3 linked regions of the Homo sapiens genome follow. The protein of the gene in region 2 interacts with the protein of the main gene of each other region in a pairwise test. Each region holds a gene or a part of one and is shown on either strand. Other genes may lie near its edges.

Evidence for each region.
Region 1: the proteins of TSEN54 (region 2) and LHX4 interact in binary tests that used the Homo sapiens proteins (3 or more experiments, as listed by UniProt).
Region 3: the proteins of TSEN54 (region 2) and KPNA5 interact in binary tests that used the Homo sapiens proteins (3 or more experiments, as listed by UniProt).

What each region holds. Positions count from the first base shown.
Region 1 is NC_000001.11:180,268,146-180,275,459, reverse strand, and holds part of LHX4 (LIM/homeobox protein Lhx4), read right to left. Parts: intron 5,808-7,314; exon of another isoform or gene 4,081-5,807; coding exon 3,926-4,080; exon of another isoform or gene 3,626-3,925; coding exon 3,454-3,625; exon of another isoform or gene 1,276-3,453; coding exon 881-1,275; 3' UTR 1-880. UniProt on the Homo sapiens protein: May play a critical role in the development of respiratory control mechanisms and in the normal growth and maturation of the lung. Binds preferentially to methylated DNA.
Region 2 is NC_000017.11:75,511,693-75,519,618, reverse strand, and holds the start of TSEN54 (tRNA-splicing endonuclease subunit Sen54), read right to left. Parts: upstream 3,092-7,926; 5' UTR 3,059-3,091; coding exon 3,003-3,058; intron 2,874-3,002; coding exon 2,709-2,873; intron 2,611-2,708; coding exon 2,547-2,610; intron 2,459-2,546; coding exon 2,375-2,458; intron 2,063-2,374; coding exon 1,964-2,062; intron 625-1,963; coding exon 572-624; intron 1-571. Other genes in the region: CASKIN2 (caskin-2), read left to right, coding at 5,815-5,908.
Region 3 is NC_000006.12:116,726,093-116,733,406, forward strand, and holds part of KPNA5 (importin subunit alpha-6), read left to right. Parts: intron 1-402; coding exon 403-530; intron 531-3,470; coding exon 3,471-3,649; intron 3,650-6,043; coding exon 6,044-6,231; 3' UTR 6,232-7,314. UniProt on the Homo sapiens protein: Functions in nuclear protein import as an adapter protein for nuclear receptor KPNB1. Binds specifically and directly to substrates containing either a simple or bipartite NLS motif.

The DNA of each region.
Region 1 (7,314 bases), on a different chromosome or scaffold from region 2:
ACAAATGTTCACTGATTGATTGTCATTTTGTTCTCCCCACATTTTAGTTTTGCTCATTTTACAGCCCACAGCCTGTCTTGTGGAATAAATGATACAAGCAATTGAAGAAGGCACACTGTGCACCAAGGGGACGACTCAGGCAATCTGCAGCGGTGGTCCAGGGCTACTCAGCTCAGCCTCAGTCACCTGCAATGAAAACCACCTCTTGCCATCAGAGTCAATGATATAGATGGGACACTTAAAAACCAAAACAGGTTCATATTCTCTGGTTTGTAGGAAAGAATTCATATCTTCACAGCAAAAATAAAAAAGGAGGGGGCATGTTTTTAATATCAAACTGGCCATCAAAGTGTTCACTGACCTTTAATAACTGATCTTTTCATTTTGAAATATAGGGTTCAATAAGGATGGTCCAGAAATCACTTTTATTTTACTCAAGGGCTGTGAGGCCTCTACCTTAGGAGTCTCAGTTCTGGTGAGAGCAGTGTTTTGGGAGGCATTGTGTGAGACACACCAGTTGGAGCAAAGTTCCCAAAGGCCAAGGGGGCCTATCACAGTCACCTTGTGCTACCAAAGCACTGAGCAGCCAAGCCCCTAAGCAGAACAGCAGGGGAGAGACCCAACAAGCCAGTGTCCCTAGAGCTCTAGGCCATTACCCCCTGTGCTGTGTTCTGAGATGAGTCTGCTCTCCCACTGCTTCCCCAGGGAAACAATGCCCTAGTGTGGTCTCACAGCCTTCTAGGAATCAGCGGAGGACTTCCATTGAAAATAATGGAAATTCACATTGGCGTACTTTCGATCCTTAAAAGGCAAGTCTCTTTTGATCCTTGAAGATATTCTCTCAAGCCAGGGGGGCAGGTAGGGTGGGGAGGAGAGAAGTTTAAAAAGGAGGATGATCCATTTCATCGAGCCAAGAGCCTGGGCTAGTTGGAAAGTCGGGATAGCCTACACTGCTTCCTGTGGAGATGTCAGAGGTGGGTCCCCCAGCCATGGCTCTCAGCGTCTGGCTTACTCCCTGCCCTGCATGCGCAATGATGCCCAAATTACTGTCCACCGTGTAATCCAGCCCATTGAGCAAAGGAGCGTGGGATGGCAGGGACGATATGGAGGATGGAGACTGGGGGATTCCATAGGGGCTCCCATCCCTCAAGTCCTGATAGGATTGTCCTGTCCCGTCCATGGAGAAGCTCCCATTCATTAACTGTCCGCCTGTAACGTCCCCCACGTTGCCATAAATCCTATTGGTGTGGCCAAGTTCTGAGAGAATTTGATCCTCTGTGGACAAAAGAACGGAGATTTATTGTCAGCTGCCAGGACTCTGATGGTCCCCTGCTCTTCACAACCTAGGAACACACATGACCAGGAAAGATGCCCAAGGATGGCAGCTGCCTTGCAGCCAAGCATGGGTCAGACACACCAATATGGCAGCCTGATATCCAGAGGCCAACCCAGGCCAAGGAGAAAAACAAGAAACACCTGCAAAGACTAAATTCCCAGGTCCCAGAAGGATGGACAAATGTTTGGTGAGCTCGTTGGTCCCTTGTGGCTCGTGTACTAATACTCTGGCTACACTGAGGAGGATGAATGCCTAAGGCTGGGTGGGTCAGATGTCTCCACATCACAAATGGAAACTACATGCTGACAACATTTACCCTGAAAGCTTTCAAGCTGAGAAAGGGCTTGGTTTAGTTGATTGGGAAGCAAGCAGGCCCATATGGTCAGGGAAGCTGAGGACCACTCTTAGACATCTGTACAAAATCCTTCTGGTCTATCTGGAAGAGAGGTTCAATATCAAAGGACTTGGTTTCTGTCTGTATTCAATAAGCTCTTCACTGGGGACAAAGAATTGACTTGATTAAGGCAAATGAACCTTCTTTTTTCTTAAAGAATTTCATTAAGGGGATCTAATGGAATCTTTGCCACTTGAAAGAATTTCTCTCTCCAACAGAGGTGAGCAGTTTTAGTCTTTGAGAAATTATTCCCAGAGAAACCAATGATAGGTCAGCCCAGGGACCCACCTGCACCCAACAGAAATGAGCTTAACAATCCAGTATGTTCTAGGTGTTGACTTCAACAGCCCAGATGAGATTGACTTTCCCAATCCTGCCAAGAAGCCTAAAAGGTGAGTATTAGTCCCATGAGCTGTCCCCAAGGCCTCACGGGCCCTGTGTTCTCAGAGGAGGCTGCCCTCTAGGGCTCAGCTGACCTCTGGGCTGAACTAGAGTCCTCCCAGGGCATCGTTGTCCTGGCAGGCAACTTGTTCCATCCTCTGTCCCACAAACTTCCTTTTCTATTTCCACCTGGGCCTCTGCACCAATCCCTAAATAAGGCCTCCCCAGACTAGACTTCAACACCCCATCCCTTCTGAGGCCTGCCCCCCATTCCCCTTATGAAAAAACATGGTGGGGGGAGCTCATGCTCTTTAAAGGGAGCAGGAAGATGAAGGCTCCACTCCATTGTCAAATGGCCATGAGTTAGCCTTTTCCCTATACCTGTCATCCCAAATGACCAGGGCCCTCTGCGGGAGCCACACGCTCCCTGTGGGAACGATCATGCCTTCCAGGTATACAAATGTGCCAGGCTTTCCCCAAGCACATCCACAGTTGGTTGTGTTCATTGATCCCCACAACGCAGTGAGATGGGCAAAGATATGGTATTCCTCTTGGGAATACTGGGGCTCAAGAGAAGTGAATCGATTTGACAGAGCTGCACTGGAAACCAGGTCTCTGATCGCCAGTTGAGTACTCTTCCCTTTCCCCCTCCGCAGAAGACCTTCCACATTTGAGAACTCAGTACCTGAGAACAGTTATGATTCTTTGCAAACAACCTGAGGATTCATAACATGCAGTAATTTACAATTTTGCTGATGCATGAATTTGAATATAGTGCATGCTGCAAAGCTTGTGTGCAGGGGACAGAATGAAGTGAGTGGTGGGGAAAGGGATTTCGGAAGTGAAGCCAGTTCCCCATCTCACATGCACTCACAGTACTGATTTCCCAGGAAAAAACCTGTGGAGCATGACCTCCCCACCACCAGGACTGGAGGAAGGGGTGGCTCTAGGGGACTATGGGAGTAGGCCAGTGTCCCAGCAAAGGGGACAAAGATGGGAGAGGGGCTAGGGGCACAAGGCTGGAACCCAGTCATCTGTTCATAGCTGTGTGGGCTGATGAGGGAGGCCCCAGTCAGCAGGAGGGGAGGGGAGACCTTGGGGCCACAGGACGGGGCCTGGCCCATCCCAGCTTCCAGACCTCAGCAATCTTGTTTCCTACTCCTGTCCCATGGTAAAGGGCCACTACCATTTCCCCCACCCTTCACTGCAAGTCTTAAGGAAAAGCCTGTGTTCAGGAGGGAGTTGCCAAGGCCTCAAGAAAGATCCCTCCTGAGTGCCAGGGATTACAGATTCCCAGGGGACTTTCCTAAGGCCTCGGCCTGGCCCCTCCAGCCCTGCTCACCTCGGAAGCTCAGCTCACTGTCACTAACCCCACAGTCCTCTGCAGAGCTCTCCTTCTCCTGCTTGCTGCTGCCCCGGCTCCTCTTGACGCTCTTATAGAACTGCCCCCAGCGGTGCCGCCCTGCATCCTTCTTCAGGCGTTTCTCTTTGGCCCTTCTGTTCTGAAACCAAACCTGCCACACAAGCACAAGGGACATACTCAGGGGGCGTCCACCACAAACCCAAAGCCCCCAGGACCCCCTAGGCGGGCGGCTGGAAGCAGACTGAAGCCTGAATGGAGCACAGGTCTGGGAGTGCGATGCGCCCCACCCCCTCTCCCCAGGTGGGCCTCAGAACTCTGTCTTCAGTTCTGGCAAAAGCCCTGGGGTCAAGCCCTGAGCCCAACCACCCGTGAGCTGATGTCACTCAGGATACCTTCCACCCCTGTCCCGGGCCTGGGATCCCCGGAGGGCACAGGAGTGCTGGCATCTCACCTGTACGACCCTCATGTCCAGGCCTGTCTCTGAGGACAGCTGCTCCCTCACGTGCCGGGCAGGCTTGGGGGAGTTCTTGTATGCATTCTTTAATGTCTCCAGCTGCTTGGCTGTGATGGTGGTCCGGGGCCGCTTAGCTCCAGCCTCTGAGTCATCTGCAAGGAAAAACCACTGCTTACTGGCTTCGGCCTATCTGCAGCAGCTGCGCCTCCTCCCACACCCTCCCTTCCATCCTTTCTGCACCTAAGCCTGCCTGCTGTAGGCAGGACAGCGCGAGGCACAGGGGACATCAGAGTGGAGAGGTCCCCACTCTCATGGCACTGACTCCTGCACCACGGGCCTTCCCAAGCCACTGAAAAGTGAGGACAGCAGTCCTTTCTCTGCTCAGCTCCCTGCCTCAACCCTCCCCTGCCAGCCCAGCTGCACAGAAGTCTCATCAGATTGAATGTACCCAATTCCACACGTCCCTGTCATGACAAACACTCTGCTCACACATCCTCATGAGTTCTTGCCAGAGCTGTGAAGGTGAACAGCCAGGTTGAAGTCATGTTCAAAGTCGCCCCAGATGCCCTCCCCTCTGTCTCATCAGGAGTCTCCCATTTCCCCACAGCCATGTCACCTTTGCCCTGGCGTCGCTGGGCTCACAGCCAGGGGTGAGCTTGCACACCCAACAGTGTCTAAGCAGGTTTCTAAACTATAGGTCAGAACCCACTCGTGGGCTGTAAAGTCACCTTAGTGGATCAAAACTAAAACAGGAAATCAGATGAAGAGAATGGGATGGAATGGCAAGATCATTTCATTAAACTTTAGTTTTTATTGTATAAATATGTGTACTGAGATGAAATGTAAAATGAGTTTTACTGTGGATTGTAGTCAAAATTTTTTGAGAAAACTAGTCTAAGGAATGTTCTGGGCAACACACTGACTGATCAACACAAAGTCCTAGACAGATTTTGAGTGAACAAGCTCAAGTTCCTGTTAGTTAAAGTCTGGTTTGTTCCATTCAAAGTCAGGTACAGAGAGAGGCGCGTGCGTGTGTTCGGAAGCACAGGTGAATGTAAAGGTTTGTTTCCTCTCCCAGCACTTAGGCATACTGCCCTTTTCTCCACAGTGCCCCTGGAGGACACACGGAATAAAGTCAGCAGCTGGCCTGGGCAGCTCTGCTCTCTGTGCTTGCTCACCTGTGTGCCCCAGAAGGTGTCTCTGTGACATTCCTGACTTCCTCTCTGTCTTTTCTCCTTTCTTTCCATTCAAGAAAACCCTCTCTTAGAAACAATAGTAGCCAACATGTGTTAGCACCTACCATGTGCTGGTGTTGACTAAGGACTTTATATGCATTCGGTCCTCACAATCTACAAGGCTCTCCCTGGAGTCAGCAGACCTGGCTTCAGTGTTCTTGATGAGTGAGTGACTTGGGCCAGTAACTCACTTCCCCCTTGGAAGTCCAGAGGGCAACACGGCCTGCCCTGATCTTGGGAGGCACTAGAGGAATGAAGCAGCTGTGCAGCCAGGACATGTGTGTACACAGTGAGGGGGGACACACCCGTGCCTTCCCTTCTCCTCGGGCTGTTTTCTTCTCTCACGTGGCCACTGTCATCCCGGAACTACTGTGGCCCAACTCCCTCCCTGAAGCCCTGAACCCGAAGGGTAGGGATTCCGGAGCCCCTGCCACAGAGACTACACTACTTAGAGAGTCATTCCAAAAGACAAAGGGGAACCTCCAAAATGCCTTCCTTTTCATTCTGAGGAGTCTGTCCCTTCTGTGCATATTTATAGTCTACACGGGAGTGTCTGATGCAACTTTGAATTATGCAAATGGGAAATAGTGCACTTGTGTACAATCTTTATATTAAAAAATGTGAAATAATGCAATCACCAAAAATGTTTTAATTTCTCGAGAATCACTTAATTTCAAAATAGCTTGGCCTACGGAATTATAAATTCTTTTCACCACAGCCAGATGGTAGCGCCACTGGGATAGACCCGTCATCCTGGTTGGTGGCCCGCTGGTTCGGCACTGCTACACACACAGGATTTTCTTCTTGCAATGATGGGGACTAATATGCTGTTATTTTAACATTCACTGTTATTATAATTTAAAATCTTTTTTATATCCCATAACAATGTCATCCAAGTATTCATTAAGTAGCAGTGGCAGTGCTCGTGCTGAAAAATGTACCCAAAAATCAATAACTTTGGTACGGAAGTTAAATGTGACAAAACGCTATGAGGAAGGCCAAGGGAGCCCATGATACCCTGGGCTGTTAATTTAGGAGAGAGCGTTCTGCAAGGTATTCAAGATAATGCTGAGAAAATAAAAAGTAGCATTAAGGCAAAGATACACTTCACTGGTTATGGATTTATGTGCTCTCAGAATATACCACCCCCCCCCCCACACACTCTACATTAATTCCTACAGGAAAATTAGTCTTAAAATATGTTAGTTTTGAATGATGCAGGGTCTCCTAGAACTTGTCCCTGGCATAAAACGCAACCTCATTATATTGAAAATGCAAATATCCAGGGAGACGGAACAAGTGAACAAAATCATTCACACTAAGGTGCAAGTAACTGCTCTGAGATCCTTTGTTTAGCTAATGGGAGGGAACTGTAAGCCTGCAGGAGGGCTGAGAGTAGCAAGGAGGAATTAAAACAACCTGAAAAGACAGCCAGGCATTCTGCAGTGGACAGAACTCCCCGCTGCTCCAAGGATCACCGATTGCCCAGGACAGAGGAGCCCTGCCTTGCTCACAGCCAGGGTGGGGTCAGGAAAGGACCCGGGGAACAGGCCAGAAATACTGTGTAACATTCCGCTGCTTTAAAACCTCAAGCACACCTCACCTCCCTGTTTGCACTTCTCCTCCACGTCAGTCTCTTATTTCACATCCCATTTCACAAGCCTCATCCTATTTAAACCTCAGGAAAACAGCCCTACGTGGCAGATGCTATGATCCTCCATAGACAGCTGAGAAGCCGAGGGTCAGCCAGTTCTACAACTTGCCAGGAGATCTCCCTGTGTGGGGGGATGCCCAGCCAGCTTCTGACAGCAAGTCCGGCATCTTCCATCATCCTGCAGAGGTCTGCTGTGGTGCAAATATTCCTCGATAAAACTGTGAGCACCACAATGTCATTCCCACCTCCCCAGCCAGATTCTGACCAATCTACATCTGTTTCTCTTGTCTCTTGAACCACCCACAACATCAGGAGATGCTGAGCTGAGAGTGCTCAGAGTCCAAATGAGGCCTCTGATGAGAACCAGCTGCAGGCCGGGGAGGTCGTGCCATCTTAGTATCTCTGATGAACGGCACTAGACTTCCAAAGGTGTCTTGGTATCTCTGAGTCCATCTGCTGTGATGGTTCATCCCTGACAAGTTGCCCTAATCTCCCAT
Region 2 (7,926 bases):
TGCACTACAGCCTGGGCGACAGAGTGAGACTCCGTCTCAAAAAGAAAAGAAAAGATGTGCCTGCTTTAGAGCTTTTGTGACATACTGTAACTGCAAAAGCTGTACCCGTTTCCACTCCAAGTCTGAAGGTCTCTGCCTTTTACCAATGCTGGATTACTAAGGTGATGAAGGAAAAAACATTTAACCTGGCATGAAAAATGTGAAACCCTACTAATGGTAAATTCTTCACCCAGTCCTTCATTTAAGCATACACTCTACATACCTGCCTGCGCACCTACTAAGTGCCAGGCACTGTTCCAATCCTGCCTCTCAGTGCTCACACACACTCAGCTGCAGGCGCAGGTCATCTGAAGATGCGGCTCGAGTTCATAAACCAGAATAAAACAAAATGACCTGGATTCCTCCCAACCTGCCTCTCTCAGAACGCTTCCAGCAGGCGCCCCCAGTCTGTGCCCAAGGAACTGCACTCCAGCCAAGGGTTCCAGGTAAGGAGAGGCCATTTTCTACCTTAGACTAGTCAGCCAGGTCCCAGGACTAGAATATATGGAAGGGGAACAGGAAGGGGATTTACCTTGGTTGGAATCGTCGAACCACATAACCCAACCTCTTCAGGTGGCTGAAGACCTCAAAAGAAAAAAAAAAAATGAAAGCTCAGATGGCCACTCTGGAAAACACCAAATGGTTTCTCCAGACACAGGCCATCCCCACAGCCCTCTCTGCCCCTCCTGTACACCCCCAGATTCTAAACCCTGTGATTAAGGTTGGACCATGCTTCATTACGAACACCATCCCTAAAGATCTCAGGCTCTGAATTCCTGTCCTCCCACTTACCTTACTCGGCACAAATGACATTTAGCCAAATCCAAAAAAACTGATAGCCATGAAACCAGAAAACCACCACGCCCTGAAATACTTGAGTATTTTGATACAAAGCTCATAGGAGTGAAGCTGCCGATCACCATGTGAACAAAATGATGGCAGGTGGTGGGCATCTCTCCAGCCCCACACCTCCACAGATGCCGGTGGGAAGTTTCTGGTAGGGAGCCACATATTCAACCTTGTGTCCCTGCATTCATATCAGAGGAACATAGATAAGAATGTCCCCCATCCTGCTTGATCTCAGCAGGCTTTAGCACAGCTAACCACTTCCTCCTTGAAAGACCTTCTTTTGGCTTCTGTGATGCGACTTTGGTTTTTCTCCTGCATCACCAGACACTCCTCGGTCTGTTTCTGCTTCTTATCTGCCCCCTAACCTACACAGAGAGCCCCAGGGCTCAGACCCAGCCCTCTACTCTGATGGCACTCCCATACAGCCCAGTAGTTTAAATACCATCCATGTGCTCATGGCACCCATATTTACATCTAGCCTTGACCTCTCCTCACACTCCAGACTTGGATTCCAATTGTCTGTCTGCTTTACACTCACTTGGATGTCCAAGAAGCTCCTCAAAATTAACTTATCTGACACAGTTCTTTCGACTGGTCTTGTCCTCCCAAATCTGCTCCTCTTCATTCTTCCCACTCAGAAAATGACAGCACCTTCATCCACTGGTGCATGCCCAAATCATGGGCGGTAATCCTGGGTTCTTCTCTCTCCTTAATCCTGACATCCAATCCATTGGCAGTCCTATCCATTCTTTCTCCAAAATATTTCTGAGATTCATCTATTTTTCACTCACTGCAACTCTACCCACCCCCAACCTGCGACAAGCCCCTAGCTTCTCTCACCTGAATGAACAGCCCAGTCTCTTTGGATTCTCTTCCCCCACCTTATCTTCTGACAGCACTGGGGTCTATGTGAAGCCAACAGGCCACCACCACAATGTAAGCCTCGTGACAGCATAGCCCTCGTCTGCCCTGCAGCCCCAGCATGTGACACTGTGCCTGGCACCTTATGGGTACTTGTCAATACTCATTGATTCAGTGGATGGGTGGCTCCCGGAGGCGGGGTGGTGGCAGATACCTGGTACTGCAGGAAGGTCACAGTGTGGTCGGTCAGCAGCAGCTGGTAAGCTTCCTGGATAGACAGTGGCAGGTCTTGGTGGAAGAGGTGGATGGAGCCCTGGAAGTGGGGCCAACAGCTCAGCTTATGAGCCCTCACTACAGTGCCACAGAGGAATGGGGCAACTTCCCAGCTCTGATACCTCCCCCTCCCCCTCTCAGCAGCGCATCAAGAATGTGGCCAACCAGGAAAGTGGGGCAGCATCACTAATGTGGACTGGAATCCCTGCTCCCTGCAACGTACCACCTCCTGCTTTAGAAGTTTGGTTATCAGTTCTCTAAAGACCGGGTTGTGTGTGCTTTTTCTCCGATAAAACGTGTCCTTCCCGTTCTTTGGTCCCAACTCCTTCCCCACCTCCCGGGCCCCACTTACACACTCCAGAAGATACAAGGCCTCTTCCGGGTGAAGGCGCTGCCGGCCCTGCTCTGAGAAGCCCATGGTCTGCCAGAATTTGCCCTGTGTGGGGCCCAGAGCAAGTGTCACAAGGGAGGGAGGGCAGGGAGGGCAGGGAGGGCGGTCCCCGGTCCCCGAGCCCGCCGCTCACCGCGGGAGACTTCAACTCCACGAAGCCCTCTTCTGGCCTCCACTCGGCAGCCACCAAGCTGCCCCTGGCGAGGAGTGGGGAGGGGTCTGCGTCAGTCCATTCCGGAGACCCCGCGGCCCGCCTCGCCCCCGCTTCCCTTACCCCTGGGCCCGCCCCTCTCACAGGCGCTCCACGCGCTGCTCTGCCAGCAGCTGCCAGAGCTCTTCCCGGCACCGGCGCAGCCGCTCGGCCTGAGCTGCCGAGCCGTCGGGCAGAAAGTCCTTGGGGCCATGCGAGCGCTGGGGCAGCTTCTGCGACCGCGAGCGGGCGGCGAAGAGCTCCCGGGCGCTGGGGGAGAAGGGGACGCGGGGTCAGCGCCGCGCATCGGGGGCCGCCTGGCCGGGTCCCGGGCGCCGGTTTCCCTACCCGCGCTGGCCCCGCGCCCCCGACACCCACTCCGGCCGGGCCGCGCCGCACCTGAGCACGCGCCCCGCGGGAACCTCCACGGCCGCGGGCTCGGGCTCGGGCTCCATCCCGCCGCCGCCTGCCGCTGCGCGCGCCGCCACGCCCCGCCCACCGCCGGAGCTCCGCGCTGCCCTAGTGCCCGCCGATCCGCAATGCCGCGGCAGCCCCGCCCCCTGCACCGCCCCAGCCCGCTCTGCGCCCTCCTGATTGTCCCCGGTCCTAGCGCCCGCCCGGAAGCGCACCCCGACGCCGGGTCTGGGAGCTCAGCCCGCAGGTTGCTGGAGATGCAGAAGGCCCCTCTTTTGCCCCTAGCCCTCCTCGGGGCTTCTCTCCAGTAAAGCCTGAGGAGCCGGCGTCTGGAGTGCAGTGCGAATGGTCACACTTGTGACCGCCCCTCTGCAGCCTCGCGCTGCTTAGTCCCCACCGCCCGGGCTGGGCAAGGAGGGCAGAAGGGCTCAGGGAAGGACGAGCGGAGGGTGTGCAAATTCCGACTTTGCAGGCCGAAGGCCACCCGGGAACTGTCAGGAGCGGTCCGGGGAGGTTCGCCATTCCTTCGGTGTCTTCCGTCCGGTCCCTACGGCTGGGCTCCGAAGCCAGGTTTCGAGGGCCGGGGGCGGGAGGCGCTGTCCGGCCCACGACGGTGCTGAAGCGCCACCTCCGCCCGGCACGAGCGCCTCCTCGAGGCTGGGGTCCCCGCACTGGTGCCGTCCGCTAGGTGGTGCCATTGCCCGGCCGGCGGCTGCGGGTGGGCGACGCCGGCCGCAGACGGGGGGTACTGCAAGTGGGGTCCCGCGTCTTGGTTGCCAACCCCCTTCACATTACGTCTTCTCTCCCACCAGTCAGACCCGGGGTGTCTAGCCCTTGGGTCTAAGTCCAGAGCCCCAGGTCACCTCTGCCCCCGCGCCCCCCGCCCCTCCGTTTCACCTGGGCGCATGCGCTGATCCGGTCAGCGCCCCCGGTCCGGGCGGGCACGAGTTGGGGCGGGATCTGGCGCGGATGGGGGCGGAGCCGCCGGTGCTGACTGACAGCCTGACTGCGCGGCCGGGACGGTCCCTCCGTTCCCGATCCGGCGGGAGGGAGGGGGGAGGGGCGGGATTTCCTGCGGGAGGCGCCGAGCCGGCCTTGGAAAAGGAGAAGGAGAAAGGGGGGCAGGGGGGAGTGGGAGCCACCGTCCTGAGTGCCAGGGACCGAGCAGGGCCAGCCGGACCCCGGCGGGCGGCCGGGAGAGGTGAGGCTGCGGGGCCCGCGCTGGGGGTCAGCGCCCCTGGGGGCGGGCGCAAACTAACTTTTCTTGCGGGGTCGGCGGGCACCTCCATCTCCCCGCTCCTTCCGTCCTCCTCGCGCCCCTTTTTCCATCCTCCGCGTTTATACCTCGGGCGCTTGGCCCGCCCGGCTTCTCCCGCCGCTTTGTTCCCCGGTGGGCCTGGGCTGGGCTGGGCTGGGCTGGGGGGTTGCGAGGCGCTGGAGGGACATTCCGGGGGGCGGGGGAGCCAGCCCGACCCCAGGCACTGCCAAGGGCGCCCTCCGCCCGTGTCGGCCGCGGGCTCCGCGTGGGAGTGCCCCTGGGTTGGGCTTGGGACGTTTGGGGAGTGAGGGGTTCCCGGCCAGGGCCCCAGGCCTGCGCGGATCTCATGCCACAAGACTCTGGCAGTAAATTCGCTGCCACCGAGAAACTGACGTAAGCTTCTCTGCGGTGGAGTCCAGGGTCTGGGCTTCAGGTTCAGGCTTGGGGGGCTTGGGAGCCCCGTTTGTCAGCAGTGCCCCAGCTCTCTCTGTTCTCTGCCCAGCTGCTCCTCCACCCGACACAAGGGGCGAGGGCGGGTCAGCAACAGGTGCTGTGCAGCTTCCCTCTCTAGCAGGCAGAGCCCCCAGAAATGGGGGGCCAGAAGCACTTCATGCTCTCCGTTCACAAAGAGTCCTAGGACTAGGGCATCCAGCCATTAAAGCGAAGCCTTGAAGCCTCCGTAGGGAGGAATCTGGGGGCTGGTGCCTTTGACAGGGAGTGACCCCTGCCCGCCTGCCTGTGCCTGACCCTCCCGGCCCCACCTCCTGGCCCGCCAGTTGTCTGTGGGTGTCGGAGCCTCGGGCTGTGGAGAACAGGCTGCTGGCCCGGCCTGCCCCAGTATGTCATGCTGCCAGGGCCCCTCCTGCCCAAGGTTGAGGTACTGCCAGGTGCCCTGGGGCCCCAGTGACTCAGCCTCCCCCTCCCAGAATGCCACCTCCCCCCCACCAATACTCCTCTCATGCATAGCAGCTTCCTCCCCACTTTCAGTGGCTCAGCATCACCATCGACTCCGAGGGGAGCCAGGGTGGCTTGGGGGCTCCCTGGAGGTCTTGTCCTGCTCATCCTCTGCACTCCACTTCTGGGACCCTTGCAGGCTGTGGCCCAGCATTCGACAGAGGCCCCGTGCTTTTTCCAGAGCCCTGAGACCAGTGCACCGCTGCTGCCTGAGGCCCAAGGGAATGCTGGCTGCTCTCTGGGTGGGCACTGGTGTTCCACAGCCAAGCCGGGAAGATTGGTGTGCCCAGTCCCAGCCCATCCTGGAGCTGTCGGAAGCCACAAGCTGATATCCATCCAGATTTCCATGTAGCCTTCACCCCCTCAAAGATTAGCTTTCCTTCGTGTGGTGGCAGTTCACGGAGCACCTTTGGGAGTATCCCTCAGTACCTGACGAGGAGCCCACTGCCTGGGACACCTGACTTGCTCCCCCGGAACCGGGAGCCCTCCAAGGGGCTGTGGCATGGCGCCCTGACGCCCCAGCTTGGACCCGTTGCCTGCCTTTGCCCTGGACTCCTGAGTGTAGAGCTCAGCCCAGGAGCCAGTATGGGTCGTGAACAGGACCTGATCCTCGCCGTCAAGAATGGAGATGTGACCGGTGTGCAGAAACTGGTGGCGAAGGTCAAGGCCACAAAGACAAGTGAGTACCGGGTGGGACGAGCATCCCGCTGAGGCCGAGCGCTCAGTTCACAGAGGCTTGGTGGGTGGGGGTGGGTCACTGTGATCTGCATATTTGAGGAGGGTGGACTGTCTTGTTCTCAGTAAGAAGTGCCTCTGTGTGAGAGAGCCAGAGAGAAAGTTGGGTCCCCCTTGCTGTGTGTCCTTAGGCAAGTCACTTAACCTCTCTGGGCTGCAGTTTCCTGGCCTGCAAAATTAGAGGGTTGAAGTACGTTCATTCACATTGTTATTGAGTGCCTATAGCTTGTCACCCAGGCTGGAGTACAGTGGCAGGATCTCGGCTCACGGGAACCTCCGCCTTCTGGGTTCAAGCCATTCTCCTGCCTCAGCCTCCCTAGTAGCTGGGATTACAGGTGTGTGCCACCATGCCCGGCTAATTTTTTTTTATATTTTTGGTAGAGATGGGGGTTTCACCATGTTGACCAGACTGGTCTCGAACTCCAGACCTCAAGTGATCCACCCACCTAGGTAGGCCTCCTAGTACTAGGATTACAGGCGTGAGTCACTGTGCCTGGCTCAGGCTCTGTTCTAAGCACTGGATCATAGTAGTGAACAAAACAGACCCAAATTCCTGTCTTCGTGGAGTTGCCTTCTAGCAGATGGTCTTTCTGATGTGTTCTTTGGAGCCATGAGATTTCTGACAGTGGGTTAGAGAAGACTGAATAGATAGAACTTCATCCCTACCCCCAACCTCAAACGCACACATTTCAACCAGAGCACCTCTATGTTCGTGTCTTAAGAGGATATCTATAAGATAGCTGTTTTTTTTTTTTGAGACGGAGTCTTGCTTTCTCACCCGGCCTGGAGTGCAGTGGCATGATCTCAGCGCACTGCAGCCTCTGCCTCCCGGGTTCAAGCTATTCTTCTGCCTCAGCCTCCCGAGTAGCTGGGATTACAGGTGCCTGACACAACGCCTGGCTAATTTTTACTAGAGACGGGGTTTCACCATCTAGGTCAGGCTGGTCTCGAACTCCTGACCTCAGGTGATCCACCCGCTTCAGCCTCCCAAAGTGCTAGGATTGCAGGCATGAGCCACCGCACCAGGCCACGAGATAGCTTTTAAAAAGGGAATTCTACTGCTTAAAAAAAGTTCAACACTCTCTAACAAGTTGCTAAAGTTTCTCTTCCCCTGACATGTGTGTCCTGGTGGGGTGTGGCCAGAGCTCATTTACTGGAGATTTTCACCTAGCCTCGAGACCTGACCGGGCTGTGGGGGATCCATGCACAAGCGGCCACACCTGAGCCCCATGTCTTGGGTACCTCTGTGGTGCGACCCCCCACAGGGAGAATAGACCTCTGGGCTTCAGGGAGGGCTCTCTGGGCTGTCCCAGGAGGCCGCTGGACTTGTCACCTTGAGATCCCAGATCAGCATAGGCAGGAGGTGGTTCCTGCCACCAGACTGAGGCAGGAGGAGTTCCCTGGATGGGAAGGTCTCCTCTGGAGTTCAGGGGCTCTAGCCCCAAGATACACCTCGGTCCTGTGCACAGGAAGGAGTCCCCCAGGCTACCTGAACACCTGGGGTATGGGTGCCAGAGGAAGGGCCTTAACCTCATGCATCCACTAGCACACTGGGGCAGGAGACGCAGGGCCTGGAGAGGTGGAGCTGTGGGGTGGTCTCTGTGCCTAGGGAAGTGGACACAGGGTGGGTGCCACTGGGGAGGTGCTAAGGAGGTCCCAGGGGAGGGCCCTAAGGTCCAGCAGTGCAGCCACTCCCCTCTTCTGTCACCTCTGTGTTGTTTTTGGCAACCTGCCCAGTGGGGCCTTGGTCAAGCTGCTGCTGGCCTCACCGCTCTGGGTCCTCAAAGTGAGGCCCTCAGGAGGGCAGGCGGGAGGGGTTTGGAGGCCAGTGGCGGGAACTGCAGAGCTGGGCTCTTAGGCTCCGAGAAGTTCCCTTGTGCCCAGTGGGAAGCGTCTGTGGGGAAGGAGGTCCCTTCCCTCAGTCCCAAAGTGGAGAATTCACCCTGCGCAGGCTGTAGGCTC
Region 3 (7,314 bases), on a different chromosome or scaffold from region 2:
TGCCTGACACATAATGGTTTGTCTTTAGAAAGATATTTTTTTGCATTAGTTTTAAATAAGTTATGCAATAATCTTCCTCTCAAAGCTTTTAATGATTTATTAGGGTTCTATCAAGCTTCTTGTGTCAGTGATTACTTATCCATTTTGATCAGTCACATGGCTTGTGCTTTATCATCTCTAAAATTTATATTTTGCTATTCTCCAGTCTTTAAAAAGCTAATTTCCTATGTAAAAAGAAAAATATTTGAAAAGTTTGCTGACAGAATAGAAATTAAAAATTTATTTTAATGTCAAGGTTCCAAAAACCTTGACATTTTGAAGCCATTGAGTTTCAAGATTTTTTTTACTGGTAATATTTTAGAAACAGTATTTGTACTGATTATATATTTTTCCCCCTCTCAGGCTGTTATAGATGCAAATATTTTTCCTGTTTTGATTGAGATTCTTCAGAAAGCAGAGTTTCGTACCAGAAAAGAAGCAGCTTGGGCTATAACTAATGCAACATCAGGAGGTACTCCAGAGCAAATAAGGTATGATATAAACTTCTTAATTGTTTTTTACATGTAAATGAGACAAAAGTTGAAATAAAACATATTTTAATTTACTGATGGAACTAAAATATTATTTCTAAGTCAGTTTGATAATATGAAATGACAGCATGTATTATATCAGTTACTCATTCACAATTTTTTTTTCCCCATTTAACGTGTAATTAACATCATTCTCCTTGATAGGCTGCTTAAGAAAAATCAGAGATTAAAAAATCCAAACGGGAACGGTCTATGTTAATTTGCAGAGTACACTGTCATGGGCATTAAATATTTTTTAATCACAAAAATATAGCTTTATTATATAGAAATGGCTAATAAATTTGAATATCCACTTACTTTAAATAAAATTGAAATAGACATTGTTTATATGGTGATGTTCTGGTCCTCATTGATTGTTAGCCTTGCCTATGGATAGTATCTTTTATTTTTCTATACTAGTTACCTTTTTTTTATATTAGCTTTTTGAGTCTAGGCTTTTTAAATTTATTTATTCTGCTGACAATGTAAATAATAGGTGCATGGGCTTTTAAGTCAGCCTGATTTCAAATCCTGCTCCTTCAGTAAAAGTTGTGTGGTCTTGACAAAGTCATTTAACCCCTCTAATCTAGTTTCTTCATTTTAAAAAATGAGTTCCAGTAATGAATAGTTATGGCAGTGTAAGTCAGCCTTCCATATCCTTGGGTTTTGCATCTGTGGATTCAACCACCTGCAGGTCAAAAATATTAAAAAAGAAAAAGACAGTAAAAAATGCCAGTACAACACTACAAAATAATGCAAATTTAAAAACACAATACAACAATTAGTAACATCATAGCAATTACATTGTTTTAGGTATTATAAGTAATCTAAAGATAATTTCAAATACTTGGAAAGATATGCATAGGTTGTATGCAAATACTATGCCATTTTATATAAAGGAATTGAGCATCTGTGGATTTTGGTATTGAGAGGAAGGGTGTCTTGGAACCAATCTCCGATGAAACCGAGGGACTGTATCTTGATAGTTAAGTGAAATTTATGTCTTTGAAGTGTCAGCACAGTGCCTAAACATATTATTAATAACTAATAGATAATTAAGAATAGCTACTGTTATTATTTGTAATCATCATAATTTTTATTATCAGTATTGATTCCTGAATCTTTTATCATGTACTTTCACTCTTTTTTATCTCCCATAGCAAAGTTTCACTTACACCTCTACTAAAAGCTTCTACAGAATCGTCTTGTTCGGAGGATCCCTCCATGAAACTAGACTTCTTAGAAAATATTTTCTAATGCATATTTGATTTATTTTTCAATTTATAAAACAAGTCAAACTACAGTGCTATTTTATAAATCACATAATTTTGAAATCTACCTATTGTGAAATTGTCGTCTTTTATTGCCTTCATTTGTAGTATTATCTTGCTCTCTCAAATTTGTATAGCTGTATATTGCTAGCATCTGTCTCTGCCTTTTATTTTCTATTCTATCTCTTTGCTTTCATCAGTATTTCCACTTTGTGTCATGGATACAAGCAGTAATAAATGAAGACCCTTCCTTTGTTCTATTTTGTATTTTTTTAATGTTGATGTTACTTTTATTTTATTTGGGCTGCAAGTTTGTTCACCTGCAAATAGTTGTATTTTTTCAATTAATTTTTGTGGTTATATCTATTCTGTATATTATTGCTTTAATTTATTAGTATGGATTAAGTATCCAAACTGAGATAATTATTTTTCTAACCACTTTTATCATTTCATTAAGTTTGCATATTTGGGAAAAGACCTCTTGATCTCAGATTAAGTTATGCATCCATACCACTAGTTGAGTGCCTACTATTGCCAGTTATTGTGCTAAGTAAGTCATTTCAGTTATTGAGCACCAGCAATGTGTCTGGTACTTTCATGTATTTTATCTCCTGTAATCTCTTAACTATGAGGCAGTTATTCATTCAACAGATATTTTTGACCAATTACAGTACAGTATAGGGCAAATGAGTGCTCTGGTGAAGGTATATACATCTTTTTTTTTTAAGAGGGACAGAAACTTTTATTAAATGTCTATTGTGTTCTTACAACTACTCTCTGAAGTTGGTACTATTATTATTCCCATTTTTAAGATGGGGAAACTGAGACACAGAGTAATTGCTCAAGGTCACACAACTAATAAGGGGTGGAATTGGGACTTGAAGGCACACAGCCTGGCTTCATAGTATGTTTTTAACCTTTGTACTTAATATGGACTTTTTGCCAAGTGAACAAATCAGTTACTTCATTTACATTATAGAGTACAGAAAACCAGCCAATAACTAGAAAAGGACATGCATTCAGAAATTAAAGAATTTTTTTGTGAATATTATTTATGAACATTATTCACAAGAGAGCCTGTTTTGTTCCTACAGGCCTTCTATCCTTCTGAAACACAGTATATGTTTCAGAACATTAGCTGTGATTGTTTTTATGGGAAATTTTCTCAAGTTTAATTTAGATGTCTCTTCTTTCTTTCCATTTCTGTCTACCCCCATATGACCTCCGTGTGTGTGTGTGTGTGTGTGTGTGTGTGTGTGTGTGTGTGTCTGTGTGTAGGCTTGCCTTTAAAAAAAAAAAAAAACAACCTTTCGAACCTACGTTTAATGCTCAGATGAGCACCATGAAAAACAGGCCGAAGTACCAGTTTGTGTCTGTATTTTATAGTCTTTGCAAGACCATTTATTGCTAATTATGTTAAATTAGAGAATAGGTGAGTAAAGAAAATTTTAAGTTTCCTATGTGAGAATTTAAATGTGTGTAATGTTTGCATTTGTATAGGAATACTTTTTCTTAATTGCTTATGTAACATTTCACTATGAAAAATATTTTTGTGTCATTGTTACAAACAGTACTTAAGTCTTTTTAAATCTTTTTTTCCCTGTTTCTTCTCTTTTATATTAATCTGAAGGTATTTGGTAGCTTTAGGCTGCATTAAACCACTTTGTGATCTTTTGACTGTTATGGACTCCAAAATAGTCCAAGTGGCTTTAAATGGACTTGAAAATATTTTACGTCTTGGAGAACAAGAATCTAAGCAGAATGGAATAGGCATTAATCCATACTGTGCTCTCATTGAAGAAGCATATGGTAAGCAATCAGTTAAAAATTTGCAATTATAGTCAGTTCTTATATCTGTCATACTTTCCCCTTCCAGTTCCCTACAATTTTTTTGTTGTAAAAGCAGTATGTATTTTTTTAAGTTTTAAAATGTCACCCGTAATTTTATTACCCTAACAATTTATTTTTATTATTTACCTTTTTTTAACATTGTCTGTATGCACAAATACTTTACATTGACTTAATTGTATTGTATGTATAGTTTTATGTTCTACTTTTTAACATTTTGGAGAAATTTTACATTTCTACATAATTTTTATTATAATGGCCACATAATGTTATGTATATACTATATATATATAAAAATATGTAATTTTTTTTTTTTTTTTTTTTGAGACACAGTTTTACTCCGTCTCCCAGGCTGGAGTGCGGTGGTGTGGTCTTGGCTCACTGAAACCTCCACCTCCCATGTTCAAGCAATTCATGTGCCTCAGCTTCCTGAGTAGCTGGGATTACAGGTGCATGCCACCATGCCCGGCTGATTTTTGTATTTTTAGTAGAGACGGGGTCTCTCCATGTTGGCTAGACTGGTCTCGAGCTCCTGGCCTCAAGTGATCCAGCCACCTCAACCTCCCAAAGTGCTGGAATTACAGATATGAGCCACCATGTCTGGCCATAATGCTACATATTGAGTCAAGTTTTAGCCATTTGAATGGAAGTTTAACCATAACCTGTTGTTGACCATTAGTTTGTTCCCAGTTTATCACTTTATGTATACCAAAATAAGCATCTTTCTGTGTATATGTTTATTTCTTTTATGGAATTAATATCTGGGGATAAATTTTCAGGAATACAGTTGCTGAGTCTTAGGGCACTGACTTCTTTTTAAGCTTTTGATGTCTTCTCATTTTGCTTTCCAAAGGCCTGTTGCTGACAGTGTCACTGGCATTGTATGAATCTATTCTACAACCTCATACTTGTTTTGTTTATTTTGTGGACTCAGCAGATGTAAAATAGTACACCAAGTTGCTTTTATGTACATTTTTTGGTTTATTTCCTATAGATAGTAGTATGTATTTTTCATGAGTTAGTCTGTGTCCTTATCCAAATTGCATATTTATTGTACTTTGTCTGGTTATCTATTTGACTTTTTTTTTTGGTAAAAATTTGAATTTTATTTTATAGTAGTTTATTTTGATATGACTTTTTCCTCGGTCTATTTTTTTTCAGATCATCCATTGAACACATTCTTTTATTTTAATAAAACATACCATGTTCATTTATGTTTAAATAACTCAGTCTAATTTTCTATTCTTTCAAAGTTTACAAAGTCATTGCCTCCACAGAGATTTGATGAAAATTAATTTTTTTATTTGCCAAGTTTTAAAAATTAGGTTCTTAAAACATTTAATCATATGGAATTTATTTTAGATAAGGCATGAATCTAAATTGATTTTCTTTTATTTGCATTAAATATTCACTTTTCTGTATTAAGTCCTCTTACATTGTATGGGTGATTCAGACTTTTATTTTTGATTCTTAAAGCCCATGATATCACTTTGTCTTTCTTTCAAATTATATAACATCACTGGATAAGACATTACATGAATACAAGATATTAGTCACTGATTTAAGAATATTGTCTTACTACAGTCATTATTTTGACCCCGAGTCAGACTAGGGTTTGAGCTATTCTGTGATTGTGTATAGATAGGACTGCTTTGCTGCTTTTTTTTCTGTGATAATCTGATTGAAGTCGTTTATCTGTAATTAAATGAAATGTATTTTCAGCACTACCCAGACTTACGTGTAGAGCTTTTTCTGATAAGCAGTAAAATCGATTGCTATAGATTCTTCTCATCTTTTCAAAATGAGGCCTTTCAGTTTCAATTGTAGATTGTAATTCTTTTAAACCGCACAACAGCCATATGTTTTTTATTGTATGGGTTTGGAAATTTTACACATTTATTTCATAGTGATACTCTCTGGCTCAGCGTGTTTTATTTTCTTCATTTAATTTGTTTTGTTGCTTTCCCTTTTTGGGCTTTGTTAATTACTCTAGAAAGGACCTGTGGAGTTAATCTAAAACTGCCATTTTACAGTTGAGAAACAGAAGAACTAAACTTACCTGGCCAAGATCACACACCTAGCAGGGTGGTGTCTGTGATCTTACTCCCAGGCCTATGGTCCTTCTTCGTATGACACTGCTACATACTCTCATTCTTGAAGTATAAATCGTAAGTGATGGCTATCGGTATGTGCAACAGTTAGATTAAAATAGTCCCGTTGCCAGTGAGGTGATAGATGATGTTCACTTATTATTTTGATTTAAACATATACTGAAATTGTAGTAACAGTTTGTTTATATATATATATATATATATATATATATATATATATATATATATATACTTTGTATAACAGGTCTGGATAAAATTGAGTTTTTGCAAAGCCATGAAAATCAGGAAATTTACCAGAAGGCATTTGATCTGATTGAACATTACTTTGGTGTAGAAGAAGATGACCCCAGCATTGTACCTCAGGTGGATGAAAACCAACAACAGTTTATATTTCAGCAGCAGGAAGCACCAATGGATGGATTTCAACTTTAACTTACTGGAGGAAAAAAAATTTATGGCTAAAAAGGGTAGCTTCAGGTAACTCCTCTTTGTTGCCAATGTAAGAATGTTTGTTTTTTTACATAGAACAGTAAAGAGAATTTGATGCACTTTTAGAAAGCAAAATGAAACAAAAATTTCCATTCAGATGCAACCTTTCATTGTAGTTTGTTGTTGTTTTAGTTTTGTTGTTGTGCCTGTATTTATATCTTCTATTGTTTGGATTTTTGTATCTATTTGTGAATAATTGAATATGCAATTATTTAGTAATTTAAGCTTGAAAAGGAGAATTTTGGTGAAGCATTACTTAGTAATTCTGAATTTTTTCAAGCATTCTTGGAAACTGCACATTAGCAGTAAACCTATTGATAATTGCATTTTGGCAGTAAGTCTTACACATCTAATCTCTACTAAATCTACCTCTATCTTGAAGCAGAAATAAAAACAAAAAAGCTTCAGAAGCATGAAATAATGCAAATGCTAAATTAGAATGTGAAAATATTTATTACCTTAAATTATACATATCACTGTGCTGTAGGTTATACTTTGCAAAAAATTGCAACAGAAAACCTATAAAATTTATTTATAAAACAGAAGAAATATTATACTGATAATCCATTAAAATGTGGCAATTGTGAAGGGAGAAGCTGTTTTTCATGTTGAACACATTAAAAAGATTACTTTATAAAATGTTTAAATATTTCTGTTTTTAACATATAAGTGCTATGTATATTAGTATATTTTGTATTTCAACCAAATATGCTACCATTTTTGAAATAGTGTTTTATTGTTTTTCACTCATTGTTTTAAAGAGCATCATGACAGAGATGTCATCATGAATCTAAAGTAGTGCTGCATATCTAAAATAATAACTAATTATTTCTCTGATTTTTCAGAGCAGTAATTGAAAAGTTTCATTTTCTGTATAATAGTACTAGTTTAAGTTTAAGTACAAGTACAAGTTTAGGTACTCGAATGACAAAATTACCCTGAAGAAATAACCTTATTATGTGTTAAATTGTATTAAATGCATTTAACATTTGGATGCTAAATGATAATGAAAATTGCTAAAGGTTC